Linked DNA regions of Homo sapiens: region 1 is linked to region 2. The links come from fine-mapping of genetic effects on gene expression. Tissue or cell type: whole blood. Region 2 holds a variant in brackets; the other region holds the start of a gene. All regions are shown on one strand. Distances are from middle to middle.

The links. PIP is the estimated chance that this variant, and not a neighbour inherited with it, causes the effect.
Region 1: LSMEM1 starts here. The variant in region 2 is fine-mapped to the expression of LSMEM1 in whole blood (TOPMed, PIP above 0.99).

What each region holds. Positions count from the first base shown.
Region 1 is chr7:112,479,729-112,482,651 of GRCh38, forward strand. LSMEM1 (leucine rich single-pass membrane protein 1) reads left to right here and starts at 1,263. Exons shown (of 4, transcript NM_182597.3): 1 at 1,263-1,618.
Region 2 is chr7:112,443,782-112,446,704 of GRCh38, forward strand. It overlaps a transcript of LOC105375457 not described here and a transcript of IFRD1 not described here. Among named protein-coding and RNA genes, the nearest start is that of IFRD1, 5.2 kb to the right of the region's middle. The variant C/T (reference allele first, on the strand shown) is at 1,510.

The sequences.
Region 1 (2,923 bases), 36 kb after region 2:
AGAAGTTACAGGAGAGGAAAAGTAGTAAACGCCCCAAAATGAGGCAGTTACTTCTATTATATCTTCAAAGGATACATGGCTCAAGGCAGATCAGGTAGTTGGGAGATTTCTTAAAAACAGCATAATAGCTAACATGAACATTTTCATTATTCAGAGAAATTTGACATAGCTTTTTAACGTATGTTTCTGAGAAAAGTTACTAGTTATATTGTCTTCCTCCAAGAATTAGTCTTTGGGTACAGATGAGGCTTGAAAAAATGACATTCCCTCTTAGACTAGGTAGTGTGAAGGGAAAAAAAAAATGACATTCCTCTTCCCCCAAAGCAGAGTGAGGTCCGTATGGGATATAGGTGTAAAGAAAATTTTGGGCCGGGCATGGTGGCTCAAGTTTGTAATCCCAGCACTTTGGGAGGCCGAGGTGGGTGGATCACTTGAGGTCAGGAGTTCAAGACTAGCCTGACCAACATGGTGAAACCCCATCTCTACTAAAAATAAAGAAATTAGCCAGCTATGGTGGCACATACCTGTAATCCCAGCTACTTGGGAGGCTGAGGCAGGAGAATCTGGAAGCAGGAAGGTCTCAGTAGGCTGGGATCATGCCACTGCGCTCCAGCCTGGGCAACACAGCAAGACTCTGTCTCAAAGAAAATTTTGTGGAACACCTATTTTCTCACTGACATGAAAAATGTTTCAAAGATGAATAATGTCCATCAAGCTATGGCAATGGAAGTGAGGATGATAAAGGATTGCACAGTTGTTCACAACCTCACTGTTAGTATCCTGCTGAGATAGTTGGTCTCCTCATCACTGTAGCATCTTTTATGTACAGCAGAGGGCAGAAGCTCCTTGGCATGTATGTGAGGGAACCACATATATGGAAGGCTGTTATTCCTGAGAAAGGAGGATGTGCAGACACTCACAGAACAAAGCCTTTGTAAAGGAAAGGCGGCCGATGAGATGGAGTGCTTCCTTCACCTGTGGTGGGTCTGTATCCATGAAATCGCCCACTCACAATCGCTTTTTGTAGCTACTGGAAGCACTAGGCGTCTGACCTGCCATCATCCTTGTTATGATGTCATAATCATATTCTGTCCGTGTTTATTGCAGTTCTCTGGTTTGTCTGGAGTGTTTGCAAGTCAGTCATCATAGTGGCAGCTTCCGCCTGCTACAGGATATTTATATATGGAAGCATACCATGGCAGGAGTGCTGGAAAGGTGGTGTCAGCTAACAGTTGCTTCAGCCAGATAAGGACGGTAACTTCAGTCCAATAAAAACCTCATCAGTTACCAACTAAATCAGGGCATGGTGTTTTTTTGTTGTTTTCTTTTTAAAGCATAGTTTTAGTAATATATTTACTAAAAACCTTAGACATTATGAAAAAAGTCAGGATTTGGAATCTTACACTGCTTGGCTAAATTGACACAATATAGACCAACAGTTTCATCCTGGGGCTTATGGGTCTCATAGGAGCACCCGTATGCTGAAGAAAGGCAAAGAGAGAACTACAGAATTTGTAGAAAAGTTTTGTTGTAGTTGCTTCTGAACAATTAGTTTTTGTTTGTTTGTTTTGTTTTGTTTTGTTTTTCTGGTAACCTAGCAGTCAAAGCTCACATTTTTGTAAGTAATTTGCATGCTATTACTCTACTGAGACTGAATTATGATTCTCGAGTCTGGGAAGTTTTTGTTGCATGTGCTCTGTGTTTTTCATTTTTGATAGAAATGATTTAGACTTGATTTTAAAAATTACTTCCTGAATGTGAAGAGGCATTGACTGGGAAATGAAATTAAAGAACAAATTACCATGACTCATTCAATAACACTGCTTATTAGCTTTGAATTATGCCCTATTATAACAATTCTGATTTTGTGGCAAGCAATACTGGTGTGAGTTATTTCTGTGGTTTGATACCAAGCACCTGCCTGGTTAAAAAATAAAGCACCAGGCAATTTTTCATAGACAATTATCTTTATTTGTTGGAATATTTATTTGTAAATAGTCAAAGAATTCTTAAATGACAAAAAATCAACTGTTAGCAGTGATCTAAACCAGAGGAAAATGAAATTACTTACATGTTTCCAGTCAAGGTATAAGAAAGGGTTCTGTTAAAGGGATGCTGCTTTAGCCAATCTTGGTGAATAAGCAAATTTGCACACTGGAGTTGAAAGGAGGGTCAAGTTAGTGTGATGAAGAATTGCTAGTAACACTGGCTTCTCCAGCCTTGCTGGTTGTTCCTAGATGCCCTCATTTGGAGATGCCAAAGATAGCAACTACTGGGTGTCAAACAGCCGTGGGGCCTGGTTTTAAGGCCATGTGATCTTGTATCCCTTTACTAGCAGCCTCATGAGTCATTTGCAAGTCATTTGCAGGCTCTTGGAGCCCTGGAACAGCACCCAACTCAGTTTTCTCTGCTAGTTCTTTATTTTTCCATTTGCGTGTTGCAGCTCATTAAAAAAATATTGGAATAGCATATATTTACATTGTGACTTCACTCTAAAGAAGACATTTTCTTTCAAAGCACGTCATGGCTCACTAGGTTGTTGTCTTAGTTTTTTTTGGAGTCACCTTTTGAGTAGATAGCAAGACCAGTAATATGGAGATTTTATTAGCTGTACTCTTAAAGTCAGTTTTTGTGGCCATGATTTTCTAGCTAGGTCTCTATTTTGTAAACATTGATTAAGCCTCAGTATGAAATTGAAGCAACAGCAGATACATTCCTGAAGGGGAAGCTAAGGCTCAAGGCTATTAAGTCAGAGATCCAAAAATGAACCATGCTTCAGTTACCACACCTAAAATAGAAGCTGTGTGCAGAACAGTGGTCCTGTGATGTGACACATAAAACTTTTTTTCCTGGTCACATATTACTGTTTGGTCAAATATTAGTATAAATGGATGATAAAATATGAAACACATCTAAAAGAATT
Region 2 (2,923 bases):
AACCCGGGAGGTGGAGGTTGCAGTGAACCGAGATCGCACCATGGCACTCTAGCCTGGGTGACAAGAGTGAAACTCTGTTTCAAAAAAAAAAAAAAACCCAAAAAACAAACACCATCCCCCACCAAAAAAACAAAAACAAAAACAAAAAAACAAAACTAGTTGTAGAATGTAGAGAGGTTGGTAAAGAACAAGTTGATTTTGGTTATGTTTGGTATGAAGAGTCAGGATATCCAAATGGAAAAGTCCACTGATATTCTTTATGTTCAACAAAAAGATAATTCCTACTTACGCTGTTGCCATAAAAAGTTCTTCCAACATAATGCGTCATAACTATCCTAGTTTGGCTGTGTGTATTATGGTACTTATGGCTCACAGTACCCTGTTAACACAGTCTCATATTTTATTATTGATAATACTGCAGCTTTGTGAGATAAGCAACATTCCCATTTTAGAAGACAATTAAACACTGACTGTCTTTTGTCAGAAATTTCATTACAGAAAGTGTATGTAATTTCAAAACTGAAAACCACAAAGAAGTATCTTCTACACAACAAAAAGAAAAAAGCAAACAAAATATATCTTAAGGCTTAAAGAGTTCTAACTAAATTTGCCCGCCGAATCATTTCTTAACAAACAGGGATCTCAAATTTAGCATGCTGTATTATCACCATTCTTGGCAATAAAACAAAAATTGCAAACATATTAAGAAAACAATGCAATCTAAAACACAACAAGTGATAATCCATGTAAAAAATTATTTGATGGAATAACATTACTATTTAATAATAAAGTTCTGCTAAAGCTTTAGAAATATCAGAAAAAACTTACACTGGCAAACATTCATCAGGCAGTCAACAACTGAATGTCCCCTGTATACTGATACTAGGGGTGAAGAGACTCTAAAAAAAAGGGGAACAAGGCAAAATTTAACTTCAAGGGGCCTTTTCTCGCAGCATTGCAAATAAAACCCATGACTCTGGACATAAAAAAGCAACAGTGACACTGGGGACTACTAGAGGCGGGAGGGATGGAGGGGGAAAGAGTTGAAAAACTACTGGGTGCTATGCTCACTACCTAGGTGACGGGATCATTCATATCCCAAACCTCAGCATCATGCAATATAACCATGTAACAAACCTGTACATTATACCCTGAATCTAAAAGTTGAAATTATAAAAAAGCAAACAAGAAAACCCATGACTCCTAGGAACAAGCACTCAGGTTCCCATATGACCAAAGCCAGCCAGAGGCAAACTTGGAATCAGATAGGCCTAGGCTTTCTTTTTTTTTTTTTTTTTTTTTTGAAACAGGGTCTCGCTCTGTCACCCAGGCTGGAGTGCAGTGGCGCAATCTCGGCTCACTGCAAGCTCCGCTTCCCGAGTTCATGCCATTCTCCTGCCTCAGCCTCCCGAGTAGCTGGGACTACAGGCGCCCGCCACCACGCCCGGCTAATTTTTTATATTTTTAGTAGAGACGGGGTTTCACCGTGTTAGCCAGGATGGTCTCGAT[C/T]TCCTGACCTTGTGATCCGCCCACCTTGGCCTCCCAGAGTGCTAGGATTACAGGTGTGAGTTACCCCGCCCGGCCGGCCTAGGCTTTCATCACAACAGACGCACTGTTTACCAATGGTACGACCTTGGGGAAGTTGCAAAACCTCTCTAAGCTCATTTCTTCATCCACAAAATGGTAAAACTAATCTTTTCTGCGTAGGGTTGTTGTAAGAATTACATGAGAGGTGTGAAAACAGTCTAGAACAGTGGCAGTGTGGACTTGCAATAAATGTTAGCCTCATCCTTTTCCCCACATTAGTTCCTTTGCTTTTAAGAAAACTGCTAAAATACAGAGGAAATTGACTCCCTCATTCAATTAAAAACACAGTTATTGTCTACTGGGCCACTATGTACAGATGTATAGGTTGTTCCCTGCTGAAGAGAGATTGGTGACTGGATTCCAGCCCATAAACACTCATCAGACTTGGTGTTCTGTTTCTAATTTGCACAAAGGTGCTACATGTGTGTTTCAGAAGTGACAAAACTGGGCTTTGCCCACAAGTAGCATGTAGCTTGTATCTCATGTCTGAGGGGAAAACAGACAAGTAATCAAGAACTACAATACATATTAAAAAAAAAGAAGTAAAAAAACCCTACAATACATATAATTAATGCTAGTCTAAAGAAGGCACTGCAAGAACAAAAAAGAAAGACATTTAAATCAGACAATTTGGGGGGCCCAGGATTAGTGACCGAGGATCAGTAACTTAAAGGATGATGGGGAGATCGTGGGGAAGGATGTTCTAGGCAGAGGAGTGACATTTAATTATTAATACATTTATTCATTCAGTAAATGTGTTTTGTTAGTTCATGTCTTTTATTAACTCATACACAATTAATTGTCTTCTGGTTTGCTGAAGCAATGAGACATTTGTCACAATAATGTCTGTCAAAGTGGCTGGCCATAAACGCTCCAGTACCACATTCATCTGAAGAGCACTCTAGATGAAGGCGACTTATTTTGCCATTCTCATCCACCTTACAGTATTTCAGGACAGCCAGCTTCACCTTCTTTCGCTTACGCTTATTCTTCTCAGGAGTGGTGTAAACATTCAGTAAAAAATAATTGAATATCTAAGTGCCACGTACTGTTCCAGTACTGAAGATACAATAGTGAATAAAACAGACAGGATCTCTTTCTTGTAATTCTAACATTCTAGTAGAAGAGACAAAAAATAATTGGGCCAAAAAATATTAAGTAGTGCGATGTACTTTGGGAGAATATAAGCAGGGTGGAGGTGCTGGTGGTAGGTGGGGTGAGGATGCGACCTTAGAATGGAGAGTGGAAGAGTGGGAGAGTAGGAAGGCCTCTTCAGGTAGGTGTCATTTAAGCTCAGATCTGAATGGCAAGTGTGGGAAGCTCGGGTTGATCATAT